Linked DNA regions of Homo sapiens: region 2 is linked to region 1. A link means that fine-mapping ties the variant in region 1 to the expression of a gene that starts in the linked region. Tissue or cell type: breast. Region 1 holds a variant in brackets; the other region holds the start of a gene. All regions are shown on one strand. Distances are from middle to middle.

What was found. PIP is the estimated chance that this variant, and not a neighbour inherited with it, causes the effect.
Region 2: TTC38 starts here. The variant in region 1 is fine-mapped to the expression of TTC38 in breast (GTEx, PIP above 0.99).

Annotation. Positions count from the first base shown.
Region 1 is chr22:46,290,078-46,300,521 of GRCh38, reverse strand. It overlaps TTC38 (tetratricopeptide repeat domain 38), which reads right to left. Exons shown (of 14, transcript NM_017931.4): 14 at 6,514-7,731. The coding sequence ends at 7,638. It overlaps GTSE1 (G2 and S-phase expressed 1), which reads right to left and starts at 3,652. Exons shown (of 12, transcript NM_016426.7): 1 at 3,591-3,652; 2 at 3,043-3,142. The coding sequence starts at 3,121. GTSE1-DT (GTSE1 divergent transcript) reads left to right here and starts at 3,862. Exons shown (of 1, transcript NR_024009.1): 1 at 3,862-5,379. RefSeq lists an enhancer at 3,135-3,244 and a silencer at 3,395-3,594. The variant G/A (reference allele first, on the strand shown) is at 6,426.
Region 2 is chr22:46,262,631-46,273,074 of GRCh38, reverse strand. TTC38 (tetratricopeptide repeat domain 38) reads right to left here and starts at 5,067. Exons shown (of 14, transcript NM_017931.4): 1 at 5,003-5,067; 2 at 4,484-4,561; 3 at 659-740. The coding sequence starts at 5,035. It overlaps PKDREJ (polycystin family receptor for egg jelly), which reads left to right and starts at 9,732. Exons shown (of 1, transcript NM_006071.2): 1 at 9,732-10,444. The coding sequence starts at 9,753. RefSeq lists silencers at 4,791-5,000, 5,011-5,170.

The DNA.
Region 1 (10,444 bases):
TGGCTGGAAGAGGTGAAAACACAAGTTGGGTCAGATCACAGAGGGTTTGCAAGCCATGGCAAGGAGCTTTTATTTTCTCCAAAGTGGGATAGGAAACTATTACCGGGCTTTAAGAAAAGAATTTTAGGCCTGGCGTGGTAGCTCATGCCTGTAATCCCAGCACAGTGGTAGGCTGAGGCAGGCGGATCACTTGAGGTCGAGTTCGAGACCGTCCTGACCAACATGGTGAAACCCCGTCTCTACTGAAAATACAAAACTTAGCTGGGCACGGTGGCTCATGCCTTTAATCCCAGCTACTCAGGAGGCTGAGGCAGGGGAATCACTTGAACCCAGGAGACGGAGGTTGCAGTGAGCCAAGATGTCGCCACTGCACTCCAGCCTGGTGACAGAACGAGACTCCATCTCAAAAAGAAAAAAAAGGCTGAGCACAGTGGCTCATGCCTGTAATCCCAGCACTTCCGGAGGCCCAGGCGGGCAGATCACGAGGTCAGGAGATTGAGACCATCCTGGCTAACACAGTGAAACCCCATCTCTACTAAAAAAAAAAAAAAAAAAAAAAAAATTAGCTGGGCGTGGTGGCGGGCGCCTGTAGTCCCAGATACTCAGGAGGCTGAGGCAGGAGAATTGCTTGAACCCAAGAGGCGGAGGTTGCAGTAAGCCGAGATCACGCCACTGCACTCCAGCCTGGCCAACAGTGAGACTCTGTCTCAAAAAAAAAAAAGAAAAAGAAAAAAGAAAAGAAAAGAGCTTTATAATCTAACTTGTGTTTTTAAAAGGTGACGTTACTGTGTAGAAAGTGTATCCGAAAGGAAGCAGATAATATCCCCTGACATTACAAATGCACATATTAGCCAACGGGAAGTAGAAGCCGGTGAGACAGCGTGGCTGAGACCCAGACAGCAGCATGTGGATGGAGATGGAGAGTCTGTAGATGGATTCAGGATATCTTCTGAAGGTGGAGAAGACGTTAGCTGGTGATGGCATGAATGTAGGAGGTTCTCAGCTTGCACAGCTGGGTGAAATGGAGAAATAAAATGGGTGATGAGAAAGACAAAAAGAACAGGGTATGCAGATGCAGAGGGGGTATGCCAAGTTTGAGATGAGACGTGCATGTGAAGACGCCAAATAGGCAGGTGAATATACAAGCCCAGAGCTCGGAGGAGAGGCTGCGCTCAAGACAAAACGTGGGTGCCGCAGAGAGCAGATACGCTGCACAGCTATTGGAATGCTGACCGCCCTGAGGGCGAAAGCACAAAGCGGTCCCAGAGCAGGTCTTGGGGAAATCAGCCTCAGAAGACAGCAGAGGGGGAGCCCCCGACAGAGAAAAGATACACCAGCCAGAGAGGCAGGAGGAAAAAACCAAGAGCGTCTTGGACTCCAAGCAAGGGAAGTTTCCAGAAGGACGAATGTTACTGAAAAGCTGACTGGCGATAGAAAAGTGAAAAGAGATTCAGCAATGTGGAAGTCGTCAACGACTGATGAAAGCAGCTTGAATGGAGTGGTAAGGACAGAAGCCGGAATGGGAGGGATTGAGAGGCGGAAAAAAATGGCATAACAAGTGAGAAAGCTCTCAAAGTTTGGCTTGGAAGGAGAAACACAGCAATGGAGAGGCAACGGAGGAGACGTGGCGACAAGTGAGACAAGGGAACATTATCTGTATGTGGATGCGCATGATCCAGTAGTGGACAGGGGAAAAGTAAGGAAATGAAGTCAGGTCAACGGAAGTGGGGAAGGCCTCAAGAAGGAGCAGGGGGTGCAGTATGCACGTGGAAAGGACATATTTGAAAGGAAGGACATGACAGGAAGGAGGAGAGGGGTGCAGAGGCAAGCGCCTTGCTAGATATGAAGATGCAACATTGATTTGTAAAGTCTCCAGGACAGTTCCTGCAAAATGGAGGCATTGAGGATGCTTGGGGCCAGGCGCGGTGGTTCACACCTGTAATCCCAGTACTTTGGGAGGCCTAGGCAGGTGGATCACCTGAGGTCAGGAGTTTGAGACCAGCCTGGCCAACATGGTAAAACCCCATCTCTACTAAAAATACAAAAATCAGCCAGGTGTGGTGGCGGGTGCCTGTAATCCCAGCTACTCGGGAGGCTGAGGCAGGAGAATCGCTTGAACCCGAAAGGCAGAGGTTGCAGTGAGCCAAGATCATGCCACTGCACTCCAGCCTGGGAGACAGAGTGAGACTTGGTCTCAAAAAGAAAGGATCCTTGGGTAGTGTGAGAAAACTACCCAAGGGATGTCAAAATGCTTTGTGAGGCTGGGTGAGGTGGCTCACACCTATAATCCTAGCACTTTGGGAGGCCGAGGCAGGCAGATTGCCTGAGCTCAGGAGTTCGAGACCAGCCTGGGCAACATGGCAAAACCCCGTCTCTGTTAAAAATACAAAAATGAGCCAGGTGTGGCAGCGGGTGCCTGTAATCCCAGTTACTAGGGAGGCTGAGGCAGGAGAATCCCTTCAACTCAGGAGAGAGAGGTTGCAGTGAGTACAGATCACGCCTTTGCACTCCAGCCTGGGTGAGAGAGCGAGACTCCGTCAATAAATAAATAAATAAATAAATAAAAACGCTTTGAGAGAAAAAGAGGGTGTGGCCTGTAACTCATTCTGTGAAGCTGTACCCTCACCTTGATACCCAAACCAGTCAAAGACACAAGAAGAAAGGGGTTTGGGGCCAGGCTTACTCATTAACATGGTCTCAAAGATCCTAAATAAGTCTTAGCAAACAGAAACCAGCGACAAACAAAAAAGAAAACATCGAATTCAATACAATAAATATTTGAGAGCCCACAAAGTGTTAGGTGCTGTTCAGGGCATGGGAGCACTGCGGTAAATAAAACGGATGAGAATCCTGGCTGTGATGAAACTTAAAATGGGGAGGAGGTGAAAGAAAACCAGAAAACGAAGGCAGATGTCATGTGTTTCACAGGTGCAGAGTACAAGTCGAGCACTTGAGAAAGAATTTCTCAGGGAAACATTAAATCACCCTCCATCTCTACTGAACATCCTGAACAACAACAGCGCCGCAGCAGCAAGGACTTGCCTTCCTTCTTAGGGTCATCCATGTTCACGTCCCCTGCCCGGCAGGCTGAAGGCTCATCGCGGCCGCCGCCTCCTTCCATGGAGAGAGCTGTCAGAAGTCACTGCAGGGTGGAACGGGGCCAGAAAGTGAGTACGTGTCAGGGCCCAGGGCTCCGGCTTCCTTCAGCCCTCGGCTCACAGAGGCAGAGAGAGCTGAAGGCCGCGGCCAGGTCTGGGAGAGGCGGCGCGGGGGCCGCTCTGAAATGATCGCATCCCAGGGGACCCCAGGGCCCGAGTGCCGCCAGGCCGGGAGTCAGCCCGAACGCCATCAGACGAGATAACGGAATTCTCGGCTTCTGGGCCAGAGTGTTGGGGGCTCTGTTTGCCTGGGGGGCAGCCCTAGACCTCCCGGCATCCCCGACCACGGCGCGAGGGGCCTCAGTGACCCCTGCTCGAGCCCAGGCCCGGCTCCTGGCGGGGCGCGGCCCCTCCCCGTCCCGAAAACGGCGGGCACCGCGCCGCACCGGGCCCACCGGGCAAGCCTCGCCCCCGACCCTGACCCCACCTTACCCAAAGCGGCAGACGATGCAGGACGCGCCTCCGGCACGGATTTAAACGCGGCGCCGGGAGACGCGGGTTGCCGATTGGTCGGTTTGAAAAGGGCTCCGAGAGGCGGCGGGCTGGGTGCGTCCTGGGTATTGTAGTCAGGACGCTGGTAAGAAGCGTCCAGTGCGCATGCGCACTGCTTCAGCGCAGCGAATGGCTCCGCACAGCGCCAGGGATCACCCACCCGGAAGTCTGCCCGGCCTGGCCGCCAAGTGTCACTAGGTATCCGCGTCAAGCCGGAACCATGTATAGCAGCTCCTTGTGTGTAGGGAGAAAGTTAAAACTGCCATCTAAGGGTGTCGATGGGAAGACTAAAAGTAGGCTCACCCACCTGCTGTGAAGCAGCGCGCGCGAGCTGTTACTAACAGTAGTGAAAAGCCGGGATCCCTGCCCCCGAGGCACGCACTGGGGCGCCGGCTGACCCAGAGACCTGAGGGAGACTCATTGCCGGAGCTGCACAGCCTGTGGGGCTGGAGGGGAACCGTCGCCCTTGGCGGGCTTCCCCAACCGCCAAGGCCTGAGGACCGCCGAGGGCGTGGCGGGAGCCTGTCCTCGGTTTTACAGGCCGGCTGGGGAGCTGCGTTGGAGGAGAGAGCCAGGGGCTGGGGCCCGGTGATGGAGCCTGCCTTGGGGAGTGCATGTGTTGGAGAGAGGTGGGAAGCAGATAGGATAACCCTGACCTGAGCCATGGAGACGCAAGGACAGGACTGGTAGACGGGTCAGTGGGCAGCAACTTAAGACTGACCTCGCTTGAGCCTTTGCCTGCGAACGAGGTATAATACCCACCTCGGGGGCTTGAGGATCAAATGAGGGGCTCCACCCACGGCAAAGTGTCACTAAGCGGGATGGAGGAGGATGCAGGAAGAGGAGTCTGGGAGGACCCGCTCTGAAAAGGATGGAACTCGAGAGCACCATTTTCAGGGACGAAGATAAGCTGTTTATTTGGGGCAGGCTGTGGGGAGAGCTGTGCAGCAAACAGCCACCCGGGGCCCAGGGCAGAGGCCTTCCAGGCTGGCTCGGGCACTTCTGGGTCCCATGTCCCTGGTTTTGCATCATCCATACCAATCACTCCATGTTGCTATGTTCCTTCACCAGAAGACTGGGGGCTCAAAAAGGGCAGGGCAGCCCTCACTCACCAGTCTCCCCAGCCTCACCCAGCTCAGCACAGGGCACCAGGCAGGGGCTGAGAGTGCTGGGGTAGGTGGGTGTGGTCAAACAGCTTGGAAAGAGTTTGGCCTGCTCATTGCATTCCCCTCAGCTCATCCTGGGGATGTCTGCTCATGGGAGAATGGCAGAGGGATCCCCAACAGTCATTCCTGATACTCCTCTCCCTGTATCATGTCAGCACATAGTAGGTGTGGCCTATGTATGGCAGATTCATTTCTGCCCCCAATAGGATTTGCTGTAGTTTGGATGTGTGTCCCCTCAAAATCTCATGTTGAAATGTGATCCCAATGTTGGAAGTGGGGCCTGGTGGGAAGTAATTGGGTCGTGAGGGCAGATCCCTTATGAATGGTTCAGCACCATCCCCTTGGTGATGAGTTCTTGCTTAGTTCACACAAGATCTGGTTATTTAAGAGTCTAAGACCTCCCCTTCTCTCTTACTCCTGCTCTCACTATGTGATATACTGGCTCCCCATCACCTTATGTCATGATCTTAAGCTTCCTGAGGTTGCACCAGAAGCAGATGCCAGCACCATACTTCCTGAAAAGCCTGCAGAACTGTGAGCCAATTAAACCTCTTTATAAATTACCTAGCGTCAGGTATTTCTTCATAGCAATGCAAGAAGGCCTAATACAGAGTTTGACTTCATTTATTTATGCCTTCATTCACCAACTTTCACTGACAGCTACTCAGTGCAGGCCATGTGCCAGGTGATGCTGGGGACAGATGCTGTCCCTGACCTGGAGAGGTCATGGCAGGGGTGCAAGAGCAAGGGCAAGTGCCAAGGGCTGAGGGGCACAGAGGCAGCACCCTCACCAGCCTGCAGTGGGGGTTGGCGGGTAGAAGGCTTCCTGGAGGAGGGACCAGGGTTCCCAATTGCACAGCCAAGTCATGTCTTCTTGCTTGGAACCAGGAGAGGGGAAGGAGGCTCCCCTTAGGATGTGTCCCTAGTTCTTGGGTAGAGAAGGCGCCTCTCTGGAAATACTACTATAATTACCCCTTTTCTTTCTTTCTTTTTTTTTTTTTTTGAGACGGAGTCTTGCTTTGTCGCCCAGGCTGGAGTGCAGTGGCGCGATCTCCGCTCACTGCAAGCTCTGCCTCCCGGGTTCACGCCATTCTCCTGCCTCAGCCTCCCGAGTAGCTGGGACTACAGGCGCCCACCACCATGCCCGGCTAATTTTTTGTATTTTTAATAGAGATGGGGTTTCACCGTGTTAGCCAGGATGGTCTTGATCTCCTGACCTCGTGATCTACCTGCCTCAGCCTCCCAAAGTGCTGGGATTACAGACGTGAGCCACTGCGCCCGACCTCCCATTTTCTTGACTAGATGCCCCACCTACTTTTTTTTTTTTTTCCCTTGAGATGGGAGTCTCGCTCTGTTGCCCAGACTGCAGTGCAATGGCACGATCTTGGCTCACTGCAATCACTGCCTCCCAGGTTCAAGTGATTCTCCTGCCTCAGCCTCCCGAGTAGCTGGGATTACAGACGTGTGCCACCATGCTCAGCTAATTTTTGTATTTTCAGTAGACACAGGGTTTCACCATGTTGGCCAGGCTGATCTCGAACTCCTGACATCAGGGGATCCACCCACCTCAGCCTCCCAAAGTGGTGGGATTACAGGCGTGAGCCACTGC[G/A]CCTGGCCTGCCCCACCTACCTTAAGTTCAAGGAGAAGCCATCTCCCCAGGACCCAGCCCCAGGCCTGCACCACAGATGCTCAAAGACTTGGAGGAACTGATGAATTCATTTTAATCACAGAAATTTGCCTGGGCTTGAGCAAACTGTGGGGACTCAATAGATTTGGAGGCCTCCTCTCCCTTCTGAGAGGCCTGCCTGCTTCCTGCCCTGATGAATCCCTAATTTCAGTACAAACTGAGGAACTTGAAAAACATCTGTGCACTGGGACCGCCCCTCACAGGAGGGCTGAAAGCAGCACAGCTGAGTCAGCGGCACATTCAGCAGGCGTTCAGTGGGGAAGCAGGAGACAGAGGCGGCGCTCACAGGACCCGCTCCAGGCTTGTCACAGCCACACATCACAGCACTTTGGGTTTTGCCACAACAGAGCAGCTCTGAGCTCAATCCTTGCACCTCAGAAGTGCATTTATGATTAAAATCATGCTCGACATGAAGCCCTGTTATGATGTGCAGTTTAAAAAGAGAAACGGGTCCAAATCAGCACCAACAGAGCCCCCCAGGGGGCTCCAAGACTCGCCCCAGAGACAGCAGAAGGACCCCATGTGCGCGCTGATCTGTAAGAAGGGTGGTGGATGCAGCAGCAGGGGGCTGCGTCCAAAGGCAGCAGGTGGGGGCCTCTCATAGTGTGACCCTGGGCAGGCCACTCCCCTACCCCGGTACCCTCACCTGAAAAATGGGACAGCAACACAATGAGACAACAGAGACTGTCTAGAATATAAAGAAAAGAATGAAAAGGTCCATCCCAAGGGCAGCCTGGTGGGGACGGGGACAGGCAGTGGGGGGAGGCTGCCTCTGGAAGACCTGTCCCAGCAGAATCAGCCCCCACCTCTGCCCTGCCTTCCAACCTTTGAACCACCAGGCAGTAGACACATTCCCCTGGGAAACAGAATTTGCAAGGCAGGTGGAAAGAGCAGCACTCACACTGGCTGTGACTGCTGAAAAATGCTCATTGGCCCTTCTCGAGGACTGAAAGGAGATTCGGAATCACATTTAAAATTAACCCGTGACCCACTTCCTGTAAAACTGAAGATCACCCTCTAACAGCCCTAACAAACAGGCTCTGGCCGTCTCCTGACCCTAACCCGGTGGAGCAGCTGACTGGACGCAGTGACGCCACCACTGAGGTTCTGCAGGGTGGAGGCGGCCAGGCTGGCTCACTGCATGAGGTGGACGGTAGCTGCCTTGCGGATGAGCCGCTCGGTCAGGGGCGAGTTGGGCTTCAAGGCATCACGCTCCATCAGAAGGCTCCTGTGGAAACAGACACAGAGGTCCTGTTACAGAACCTTCTAGAGGGATGTGGGGCCTGGTGGTCCCTTGGTCCCAAGGCAGAACACAGGCAGGCTAGACTGCGGCACTGAGGGAACAGCAAGGGCCAAGGCCCAGGGGCAGGAGGCCTGGCCTCAGTTTGGGGAGAGGTGAGGATGGGAGGGCACAGACCTCCAGTGCAGGAAGCCACACCCGAGATGGGGCACAACAGGTGGCAGTGGGGAAAACCCAGGTTTGAAGAGAGAAGACCCAGGTACGGTTTGAGGTAAAGACCCTGCTGTGGACTGAATGTCTGTGTCCAGGCTAAATGTATATGTTGAAGCCCAAATGCCCAAGGTGATGGTATTAAGAACAGGGCCTCTTGGAGGTGATTAAGTCATGAGGGTGGGGCCCTTGTGAATGGGATTAGTGCCCTTATAAGAAGAGATAGGTGTGGTGGCTCACCCCTGTAATCCCTGCACGATGGAAGGATGAGGCAGGAAGATTCCTTGAGCCCAGGAGTTTGAGTTTACAGTGAACTGTGATCACACCACTGCATTCCAACCTGGATGACCGAGTGAGACCTTGCCTCTAAAAATATAAAAAAATTTAAAAAGAAAGAAGAAAGAAGAGACGTGAAAGAATTAGCACTCAAAGGAAAGGTCATGTGAGGACACAGCAAGAAAGTGGCTGTCCACAAGCCAGGAAGAGAGGCCTCAGCAGAAACTGAACCCAGCCAGGCCTTGTTCCTGGACATTCCAGCCTCCAGAACTGTGAGACAGTGCATGCCTACTGTGCAAGCCGCCCAGACTGTGGCACTTTTATTTTTTAATTTTTTGAGATAGAATCTCCCTCGGTCACTCAGGCTGGAGTGCAATGACGCGATCTCGGCTCACTGCAACCTCCACCTCCCAGGTTCAAGCGATTCTCCTGCCTCAGGCTCCCGACTAGCCGGGATTACAGGTACCCACCACCACGCCCGGCTAATTTTTTGTATTTTTAGTAGAGGCGGAGTTTCACCATATTAGCCAGGCTGGTCTTGAACTCCTGACCTCAGGTGATCCACCCGCCTTGGCCTCCGAAAGTGCTGGGATTACAGGCATGAGCCACCGTGCCCGGCCTGTCTGTGGCACTTTTAAAATAACAACCCAAACTGACTAAGACAGCCCCCAAACACCTGAAAACAGTGGTTCTAGAGGGCGTGGGTGGTGTGAAGGGGCTGGGGCCGGGAACTCATTGTGGGGGGCACCATGGCTGTGGGTGGAAGGTTTCCCACCTTGGGGGCTGGTGAGCTGTGCTGATGGCCCCATGGATGCTGCCTGGTAGCAGGACAGGACTTGGAGAGAAGGCCCCCTCCACGTCTCCTAATGCAGTCGGCTCCCTGTGCAGCCTGCTCTCCCCCTGCCCTCCCCCACTGGGCCCCGCAGAAGGCCACATCGGCACTGCCGCACTGCCCCACAGATGTCACCCCAGCTCCATCCTCAGCCCTCCTGTCCACACAGCCACTTTCCCCACCGCTGCTGCCAGAGGCACCAACTCCCACCCACACCACAGCCTGAGCTCCCCAGGGGGCTTGACCACCAAAGAAACACGCATGGTTTTGTCTACAGCCATGGAAGGGGAAAGCGGGGAGCATGCGTCCAAGACATTTTACAGTTCTAGGCGGTTCCAGTGCTGCCAGCCAGACCTGTTTCATGAGTACCACAGAACCTGTACAGCTCAGTTTGGGTAACCCTGCCTGGAGGGAGCTGCGCTGGTGCACCTGCGCCTAAACCACTGGGCTTGTCACCAGCCAAGGGCCTCCTGTGGACCCGGGCTGCCACCTGCTCTCACAGCACACCTTCCCCACCAGGCACCCCATGACTCCTCTATTCTTCCTTTCACTTATGTCTGAGGGTGGCAGGGACATGGGCAAGGAGAGGTGTCAAACTCGCCGCTCAGGCACACGGGCTACGCAGCTGCTGGCCAAGAGCTCAGCAGCCTAAGTGGAGGGAGGCAAGCTGGGCCATGGAAGCACCAAGGCTGCTGGCAATGGTGAGGGCTCTTTGGAGTTCCCCCAGCACTCTCATCTGCCAGCTATGCCACCCTCCTGACACTCGCCTGCCAGCCACACCACCCTCCTAACACTCACCCTCCAGCCACGCCACCCTAACACACCTTCCAGCCACGCCACCCTCCTAACACTCACCCTCCAGCCACGCCACCCTCCTAACACTCACCCTCCAGCCACACCACCCTCCTAACACCCTCCAGCCACGCTGCCCTAACACACTCACCCTCCAGCCATGCCACCCTAACACTCACCCTCCAGCCACGCCACCCTCCTACCAGCCCCATGCCTGGCCTGGCTAAACCCACTGTGGTTTCGGGTCTGCCCTCAGCTGCTGCTCCCTCAGTGCGAGTTTACGTGTCTGTGGGACTGATTGCTCCCTGTCGCTCCCCCGACTACAGATGGGCTCCTGGTAGCCAGTGACTGGTGTGCCTGCTCACTGCTCCCTCTCGGTACCCAGCACAGGCAGGCAGGTGAAATGAGCTGAGGTCTAACTGAGCATTAGGTGTCGGCCAGGTGCAAAAAAGGAGAAAGGGTGTTCCAAGCGTGCAAAGGCCCAGGAGCCTGAAAGAGCAGGACGTGTTTACGTACCCAGGTAGCTTAGCAAGGCTAAAAGGGAGTGGGCTGGGAAGGGTGGGAGGTTGGGCCTGGGGTGGGGCTGGCTCC
Region 2 (10,444 bases), 27 kb after region 1:
CCCTGCCTTAAGTCTGACTAGGCTGCAGCAGGGTGAGAAGGGTGTCCCTGCCGCACTGACAAGAGCCCTGTCCCCTCATCAGACCTTCTCCCAGGCCCGGAACCTTGCCGCACCACGGGACCACCCACCTGCAATGCACTGTGCTGGCTTCCCCATGCCCGCTGTACACATGGCTTGCCTGGATGCCAGCCTCTGTCACCACCTCACCCTGGCCACTCTGGATGAGGCCTCACTGGTCCCCTGACGGAGGCTGCAGCAGCCACCTCTCATGTTCCAGGGGTCTGGGCCTTGGATTCAGGAAGCTTTATCTAATCCCAGGGGTCAACCACCAGCTGGGTGGCTTTAAGTACAGTCTTACTCTTGCCAACCCTCAGTTTCCTCATCTGAGAAATGAGATCAGCATCTTCATTCCCGAATTGATGGTAATTAAAGAAAAGATGAGAAAAATGCCTTCTGATAGAACCTGGCATCTTTATGGGAGTGACTGTTTTTCCAGACACAAAGGCAGCTGTCATCTTCTCTCCCTCTGTGCAAATGCCACCCTGGTTGCTGCCACCCAACCTGCCTTCCCCATCCCAACTGTGTCCCTGTGGTAAAGGAAAGAGAGGGGCTGGATGTGTGAAGCGGGGCTCCTCCACCCAGGGAAGGCGTTACTCACCAAAGGTTGGATCTGCTGCTTTGAGCTTTGACAGGCAGCCCTCGATGCCACCGAGACTCTTGTCATTGGTCCATTTTACATACTGAAATGGGAAAAGCAAAACAAGTCCTCACGGAGCCCTTGGATCATTCTAACAAAGGTGGCTCTAAATCCAGGTTTACACTTTGGGAGGCCGAGGCGGGCAGAACATCTGAGGTCAGGAGTTCGAGACCAGCCTGACCAACACGGTAAAACCCCATCTCTACTAAAAATAGAAAAATTAGTGGGGCGTGGTGGTGCATGCCTGTAGTCCCAGCCACTTGGTAGGCAGAGGCATGAGAATCACTTGAACCCGGGGGCTGAGGTTGCAATGAGCCAAGATTGTGCCACTGCACTCCAGCCTGGATGGCAGAGAGAGACTGTCTCAAAAAACAAAAAATAAAAATAAATCCAGATTTGTTTTTCTTTGTAGAACACTGAGTATTTTCTGGACTCTAACCCAAAGAAGGCATAACCTGGCTGATAACTTTCTTCATACGAAGAAATGAAATACACATCACCCAAGGCACACTTTCTAGGGCTAGGGATGCTGCATTTCCAAAAAAGAAACATCAAAAGGCAGGTTCTGGCTGGGCGCGATGGCTCACGCCTGTAATCCCAGTACTTTGGAAGACTGAGGCGGGTGGATCACTTGAGGGCAGGAGTTTGAGACCAGCCTGGCCAACATGGCAAAACTCTGTCTCTACAAATAATACAAAAATTAGTCAGGCGTGGTGGCACATGTCTGTAGTCCTAGCAACTTGGGCGGCTGAGACTTGGGTGGCTGAGACAGGAGAATCGCCTGAACCTGGGAGGTAGAGGTTGCAGTGAGCTGAGATCGTGCCACTGCACCCCAGCCTGGGTGACAGAGAAAAGGAAAAAAAAAGGCCAGGTGTGGTGGCTCATGCCTGTAAGCCCAGCACTTTGGGAGGCCGAGGTGGGCGGATCATGAGGTCAGGAGATCGAGACCATCCTGGCTAACACGGTGAAACCCCCGTCTCTACTAAAGATACAAAAAATCAGCCGGGTGTGGTGGTGGGCGCCTGTAATCCCAGCTACTCGGGAGGCTGAGGCAGGAGAATGGCGTGAACCCAGGCGCCACTGCACTCCAGCCTGGGCGACAGAGTGAGACTCTGTCTCAAAAAAGAAAAAAAAGAAAAAAGAAAAGAAAGAAAAGGCAGGTTCCTCCTGACAGGTGACCTGCTCCACATCGGCTTCTTCTGCCCTAAGAGGAGCCCTGAAGTTGGTCACGATAGGAATATTCCTGCTTCTTATTCATTCGTTTTAAAAATATTCACAGAAAACATTTATTTTAGAGAGTTAGAAAGACACAAAAGCTGAAAGATAAAACTTACCCAAAGCTCATTTTATCATTTTTTTTTTAATTGAGACAGAATCTTGCCCTGTCACCCAGGCTGGAGTGCAATGGCACGATCTTGGCTCACTGCAACCTCTGCCTCCAGGTTTCAAGCAATTCTCCTGCCTTGGTAGGAGAATCCCTCCTTAGTAGCTGGGATTACAGGTGTGCACCACTGCGCCCGGCTAATTTTTTTTTTTTCTTTTTTGAGATGGAGTCTTGCCCTGTCACCCAGGCTGGAAGGCAGTGGCACTATCTCAGCTCACTACAACCTCCACCTCCCTGGTTCAAGAATTCCTCTGCCTCAGCCTCCCGAGTAGCTGGGATTACAGGCCCATGCCACCATGCCCGGCTAATTTTTTTATATTTTTAGTAGAGACAGGGTTTCACCATGTTGGCCAGGCTGGTGTTGAACTCCTGACCTCAGATGATCCACCTGCCTCAGCCTCCCAAAGTGCTGGGATTACAGGCGTGAGTCACCGCGCCCAGCGCATCATCATTTTTAACAATTTGCTGTATTTGTACCTGGTCCTTTACTCAAATGCCTGTTTTAAAAAAAGTCCTAGACCTATAATCACACATTAGATTTTAAAATATGCCCTTTCAGCTGTCTAACCTACATCTACACAGAATTAGTACGTGTATTTTTTTTTTAAGACAGGGTTTGCTCTGTTGCCCAGGATGGAGTACAGTGGCACAATCACAGCTCACTTCAGTCTCAACCGCCCAGGCTCAAGCAATCCCCCTGCCTCAGCCTCCCAAATAGCTGAGACTATAAGCTACGCAAGCATTTTGACAAGATACAGGAGGGTTGGCACAGAGATTTAAAGAAGCCAAGTTCTAACACAGGACAGCACAGAGACACCAATACACGGGACAAAATATACCCAGGCTGGGAGGATGAGCTGCCACTGATTGGGGATGTGGTGTGTAACAAACTGAGTACTAGGGGCCGGGCACAGTGGCTCACGCCTGTAATCCCAGCACTTTGAGAGGCCAAGGCAGGGGAATCACAAGGTCAGGAGTTTGTGACCATCCTGACCAACATGGTGAAACCCCGTCTCTACTAAAGATACAAAAAATCAGCTGGGTATGATGGTGCGTGCCTATAATCCCAGCTACTTCGGAGGCTGAGGCAGGGCAATCGCTTGAACCCGAGAGGCAGAGTTTGCAGTGAGTCAAGACTGCGCCATTGCACTCCAGCCTGGGTGACAGGGCAAGACTCCGTCTCAAACAAAAAACAAATCGAGTACTCTACAGAGGCCGGCGAGATACAGGAAGGGCAAGTGAGCCAGGTCAAACACAAAATAAACAAACAACTCAGATGCCCACAGCAGAGTCCCTTGGCAGGGCAGGCTGGGAACAGGAGAGGCACCCATGGCGCAGCTCACAGCATTCCATCAGTCCTCTCTTGTTCAGCCCGTAGGCTTCTAAGAGCTACCTGAGTCCTCCTGTTATGTGGATGAAGTCAGTATGCAGGGGCCTCACCACCCACGCCAAGGTCAGCTTAGGTTTCTATCAGTGCAGTTAGGCCCAGGTTCATCCTGGTTCTGCCTGTAATTCATGGACAACCTTCAAGTCAAGTAGGTTCAACTCTGAGCCTCAGTTTCCCCACTTGTCAAGGAAGCTAGTTGGATCTTACTTCTGAGACTTCTCCTAGTTCTAAAACTATAGGACCCTTCATTGGTAGAGAAATGACTGGTAATGTGGCAGAAGGTCTTGGCACAGCCTAGGTGAAGGCAGTATACTCACAGATTCATCCCAGGACAGGATCCCACGTCCTAAGCAGCCGAGCCCTGCATCAGACCCTCAGCAGGCCACAATGGGAGGCCCGGGGAGGCCAGCATCCTCAAAAAACATCCCCACTGCACCCACCGCTGTCCACCCACCACTCAGAGTCCTGGGGAAGAAGGGAGAGTGCAGAGGCCCTTTTAGGACGCTGTGGGGGGGGGGCAGAGATATGTCCCCACCCTCCCACGTCCTCCAGTACAAAGTGCACAGATGTGCTGCCATCTATTGCTAAGGTCATGGCGCAATTTAAAAAGCTTTCCCCATGGCCGGGCGCGGTGGCTCACGCCTGTAATCCCAGCACTTTGGGAGGCCGAGGCGGGCGGATCACGAGGTCAGGAGATCGAGACCATCCTGGCTAACACGGTGAAACCCCGTCTCTACTAAAAAATACAAAAAAAATTAGTCGAGGGCAGTGGCGGGCGCCTGTAGTCCCAGCTACTCGGGAGGCTGAGGGACGAGAATGGCGTGAACCCGGGAGGCAAAGCTTGCAGTGAGCCGAAATAGCGCCACTGCACTCCAGCCTGGGCGACAGAGCGAGACTCCGCCTCAAAAACAAAACAAAACAAAACAAAACAAAACAAAAAAACAGCTTTCCCCAATTAAAAAACCTTCCCCTAGACCTCCACAGAAGGGGCCGCGGCCTCTCTCGGCAGGCATACCTGGGTCAGCGTGGCATCGAACAGCTTGCAGGCTTCGTTGCTTGTGGTGGAGAGCGGGAGCCTCGCATCCTTCCAGGCCTACAGACGGCAAGAAGGGAATAGCAGTGCCTTCTCTCCAGGAGCCCTTCAAACTTCAACACACACACGTCTCCTGGCCCCTCTGACCTCCACCTTCCTCATCTGTAAAATGGGCTCAGGCTCCCAGTCCTGGGCCGGTTCCAAGGAGCCCCTTACCTTTGCGGGCTTCCCTGCGTCCCCAGCCATGCCCAGTGAGCTACGTTTTTTAGGAGGTCTTGGGGTCTCCCGAGTACCCTGACAGGCGTCCCTTATTTCCCTCGGTGGGGACTCTACAAGAAGGGCCTCGGGTCCCTTCCAGGCGTTGCCGCGGACGCGCCCGTGCGCCCAGGGCTCACCCCACGCCCCGCGCCCGGGCCATGTCTCCCGTTATTCCGCCAGCACCGGGCCACCCCCAGGACCCGGGGCCCGAGGGGGACCTGGTTGGGGGCAGCCTCCGTGTACCTGGCAGTCGCGCAGAGGCGAGGCTGCGGCCATGTTGCGCCGGGTCGGAGTCCACCGCGAGCTCTGGGCACCCGGGCCTTCCTGGGAGTGGGCGGGGCGGTCGCGGAAAGGGGCGGGGCGGGGCGGCCGCGCTCTCCCGCTCGCTCACTGGTGGGTTTCGGACAGACTGGCCCTGGTCCAGGATCCGGGCCCGCCCCAGAGGCCCGACCGGACAACTCTGCAACGCGACGGGTCCCTTGGGAGCAGGGAGCTCCGGGACAGCGGTCACTTTCAAGTTTATGTCGTTGCGGTCGGCAGCTACCCGCGCGCGCACGGCACACACTCACTTGGCGTTCGGGGCCGGCTTCACTGGGTCGTCCCGCCGCCTCCATCCTCCCTTCTCAAGGATTTGCAGCGGAAAAATCGCTCTGTCTCCTGCAGTAGCGGCTTCTCCCTCTGGACTGGCCCGGTCTGGCCCGGCCTGAACTCTGCCATCAGCCACACACCAGCCCCAGTCCAATGGGCTCCCCTAGTTTAATTTGCCCCCGCCCCAGGGTGCACGAATCAAGGGCGTAGAACCAAGTGCACGGGCAGATCTGGCCTTTATTTAAAATGCTATTTTGTTCATCATGGACTTTTTGCATTAGTTTTGATTTTTGAAATATTGCACTGAAGTATTATTTGTTTTATGTGAGAGCTGTAAAGATAAAACTCTTAGAAGAAAACAGAAGTAAATCTTCATGGCCTTGGATTTAGCAATGGATTCTTAGATGTAACACCAAAAGGACAAGCAACAACAACAAAATAGATAAGTTGGACTTCGTCAAAATTAAAAACTTTTCTGAATCAAAGGACACTACTCAGGAAACTGAAAAGATTAACACAATGGGAAAAAACATTTGTAAATCATATATTGGGTAAGAGTCTAGAATCCAGAATACATAAAGAAATCTTGGCCGGGCACAGCAGCTCATGTCTGTAATCCCAGCCCTTTGGGAGGCTGAGTCAGGTGGATCACCTGAGGTCAGGAGTTCAAGACCAGCCTGGCCAACATGGTGAAACCTTATCTCTATTAAAAGTACAAAAATAGCCAGGCGTGGTGGTGCATGCCTGTAATCCCAACTACTTGGGTGGCTGAGGCAGGAGAATCGCTTGAACCCGGGAAGTGGAGGTTGGAGTAAGCCAAGATTGTGCCACTGCACTCCAACCTGGGCAACAGAGCCAGACTCTGTCTCAAAAAAAAAGAATTCTTACAACTCAACAGCGAAATGACAAACAGCCCAAATTTAAAGTGGGCAAAGAATTTGAGGTGACAGTTCTCCAAAGAAGACACACCTTTCCTACAGCGTTTTCAAGGTTCATTCATACTGAAGGAAGAGGCAGACACAAAAGGTAACACTTGTATTAGTGCATTTACATGCATGTCCAGAATACGCAAACATAGAGACAGAAAGAAGATTGGTGGTGACCAGGGACTGAGGGGATAGGGATGATAAGTCACTGAAGCCTTGAACTCCTGGCTCCAGCAATCCTCCCACCTCAGCCTCCCATAAATGGTTACTTTTATGTGAACTTTACCTCAATAAAAGAGAATTTGTCTTGATTATTGAGTTTTTGGTGCCCCTCCACCCTTAAATTTTGCACTTGAGCTGAGTACTAATATGGACTAATACAGTAAATTGGTACCATTAGAGTGGGGTGTTGCCAAAAATATACCTGAAAATGTGGAAGCAACTTTGGAACTGGGTAACAGGCAGAGGTTGGAACAGTTTGGAGGGCTCAGAAGACAGGAGTATGTGGGAAATTTTGGAACTTCCCAGATACTTGTTGAATGGCTTTGCCCAAAATGCTGATAGTGATATGGACAATAAGGTACAGGCTGAGGTGGTCTCAGATGGGGATGAGGAACTGGAGCAAAGGTGATGCTTGTTATGTTTTAGCAAAGAGACTGGCAGCATTTTGCCCCTGCCCTAGAGATTTGTGGGACTTTGAACTTGAAAGAGATGATTTAGGGTATCTGGCAGAAGAAATTTCTAAGCAGCAAAGCATTCAAGAAGTGACTTGGATGCTGTTAAAAGCATTCGGTTTTAAAAGGGAAACAGAGCATAAAAGTTTGAAAAATTTGCAGACCGAAAATGTGATAGAAAATTCCATTTTCTGAGGAGAATTCAAACCAGCTGCAGAAATTTGTATAAATAACAAGCAGCCAAATGTTAATCCCCAAGACAATGGGGAAAAGGTCTCCAGGGCATGTCAGACGTCTTCATGGCAGCCCCTCCCATCACAGGCCTGGAGGCCCAGGAGGAAAAAGTGGTTTTGTGGGCTGGGCCCAGGGTCCCCAAGCTGTGTGCAGCCTAGGGATTTGGTGCCCTGTGTCCCAGCTGCTCCAGCTGTGGCTGAAAAAGGCCAATGTAGAGCTCGGGCTGTGGCTTCAGAGATTGCAAGCCCCAAGCCTTGGCAGCTTCCATGTGGTGTTGAGCCTGCAGTTGCACAGAAGTCAAGAATTGAGGTTTGGGAACCTCTGCCTAGATTTCAGAAGATATATGGCAACACCTGGATGCCAGGCAGAAGTTTACTGTAGGGGGAAGGCTCTCATGGAGAACCTGTGCTAGGGCAGTGTGGAAGGGAAATGTAGGGTTAGAGCCCCCACACAGAGTCCCTACTGGGGCACCGCCTAGTGGAGCTGTGAGAAGAGGGCCACCATCCTCCAGACCCTAGAATGGTAGATTCACCAACAGCTTGCACCATGAGTCTAGAAAAGCTGCAGACACTCAACACCAGCCCACGAAGGCAACCAGGAGGGAGGCTGTACCCTGCAAAGCCACAGGGGCGGAGCTGCCCAAGACCATAGGAACCCACCTCTTGCATCAGCATGAGCTGGATTTGAGACATGAAGTCAAAGGAGATAATTTTGGAGCTTTAGGATTTGACTGCCCCACTGGATTTCAGACTTGCATGGGCCCTATAACTCCTTTGTTTGGCCAATTTCTCCCATTTGGAATGGTTGTCTTTACCCAATGTCTGTACCCCACTGTATCTAGGAAATAACTAACTTGCTTTTGATTTTTTTTCTGTTTTTTGAGACAGAGTTTCGTTCCTGTTGCCCAGGCTGGAGTGCAATGACACGATCTTGGCTCACCGCAACCTCTGCTTCCCGGGTTCAAGCGATTCTCCTGCCTCAGCCTCCCGAGTAGCTGGGATTACAGGCATGCACCACCACACCCGGCTAATTTTGTATTTTTAGTAGAGATGGGGTTTCTCCATGTTGGTCAGGCTGGTCTCAAACTCCCAAGCTCAGGTGATCTGCCCGCTTCAGCCTCCCGAAGTGCTGGGATTACAGGGTGAGCCACTGCGCCCAGCCAGTTGCTTTTGATTTTACAGGCTCATAAGCATAAGCGACTTCCTTTGTCTCAGACAGGACTTTGGACTGTGGACTTTTGAGTTAATGTGAAATGAGTTAAGACTTTGGAGGACTGTTGGGAAGGCATGATTGGTTTTGAAATGTGAGGAGATGAGATTTGGCAGGGGTGGAATGATATAGTTTGGCTCTGTGTCCCCACCCAAATCTCATCTTATAGTCCCATAATTCCCACATGTTGTGGGAGGGACCGGGTGGGAGATAACTGAATCACAGGGGCAGTTTCCCCCATATTGTTCTGTGGTAGTGAATAAGTCTCAGGAGATCTGATGCTTTTATCAGGGGTTTCCGCTTTTGCGTCTTCCTCATTTTCTCTTGCCACTGCCATGCAAGAAGTGCTTTTTGCCTCCTGCCATGATTCTGAGGCCTCCCCAGCCATATGGAACTGTAAGTCCAATTAAACCTCTTTTTCTTCCCAGTCTTGGTTATGTCTTTATCAGCAGCATGAAAACGGACTAATACAGGGGAGGGCCAATTAAGACCACGAGTTTGAGACCAGCCTGTGAAACACAGCAAGACACCATCTCTACAAAAATAAAAAATAAATCAGTCAGGTGTAGTGGTGTAGACCTGTAGTATGGGAGGCTGAGGCAGGAGGATTCCTTGAGCCCAGGAGTTCAAGGTTACAGTCAGCTATGATTGCACCATTGCACTCCAGCCTGGGCAACAGAGCAAGACCCTGTCTCTAAAATCATTCAATCCATCAATCAAGTCCCAAAATATACAGCAAAAATGGACAGAGTTAAAGAATGAGGCCAGGCACAGTGGCTCATGCCTGTAATCCCAGCACTTTGGGAGGCCGAGGTGGGTGGATCACTTGAGGTCAAGCCATTGCACTCCAGCCTGGGTGACAGAGACTCCGTCTCAAAAAACAAACAAACAAACAAACAAACAAAAAACAAAACCCCCAAACCAACTAGAAAGAAAAGAGCAAAGCGACCCCAAAGTAAGAAACCGAGAGTCAGACCTTCCTGGGCGCCCAGGGATCTCACGGTTCCCTCCTGATCTCCCATTTTGTGACTGGCTTTCCCAAGGGTTCCTGCTGAAGCCCCTTCTCCGTGGTCAGCTCTGTGGTCTGCACGGGGCTGAACTGCCCTCCTGAGCCATCCTGACCCTGGGCCTGCACACACTTGGGGACGGAGAGGGAAGAGGTACCCAAGAAGTCCCCAGTGCCGACTGACCCCAAGCTCCGAGGTCCCAGCTGCTCTCTGGGACTCTGTCCCTGGGACCCCTCTGCCAGCGCCCTTCGACGCCCGAGACCCCCACTGTCCCCAAGACCCTCACTATCCCCGCGACCCCGGTGGCGGTTGGGCGCGCCTCGCGGCCTCTCCCAGCTTCTCCTGGGCCGGCGCCATGAGGCCTGGGCCCGCTCTCCTCCTTCTGGGCGTGGGCCTGAGCCTGAGCGTCGGCCGCCTCCCGCTGCCGCCGGTTCCTCGCGGGGCACAAGCCGCCGTCTCCGGGGCGCCCGGTGGCCTCCTCAGGGGCGCCCCGGGCCTCGGGGTGCGCGGCGGCCGCGCCCTCCTCAGTCTGCGGCCCAGCGCGGTGCGGGCGGGCGGCGCTGTCCTGAGCGGCCGCGGCAGCCTCTGCTTCCCCCATGGCGGGACCGGGCGGCGCTGGTACTGCCTCGACTTGCGCGTCCTGCTCAGCGCCCAACGCCTGCCCTGGCCGGCCGCGCCCGCGCTCGCGCTCGTCGACCTGCAGCTCTCCGCGCGCGGCGGCCGCCTCTCCCTGACGTGGTCCGTGCGGCTGCCGCGCTCGCCCGGGCGCCTGGCCTGGGCCTTCCGCCTGCGGCTGCTCGGACCCGGCGCCGCCCGCCCGGCCTCCCCCGCGGCCCGCGTCTCCCCGCGCTCCGCCGCGCCAGGCCCGCGGCCCCAGCAGGGCTTCGTGGCCCGCACCGAGTGCCCCACAGACGGCCCCGCGCGCGTGATGTTGCAGGCCGTCAACTCGTCCAGCCACAGAGCCGTCGAGTCGTCCGTGTCCTGTCAGATAAACGCCTGCGTCATCCAGCGCGTGAGGATCAACACGGACCAGAAGGGCGCCCCCGT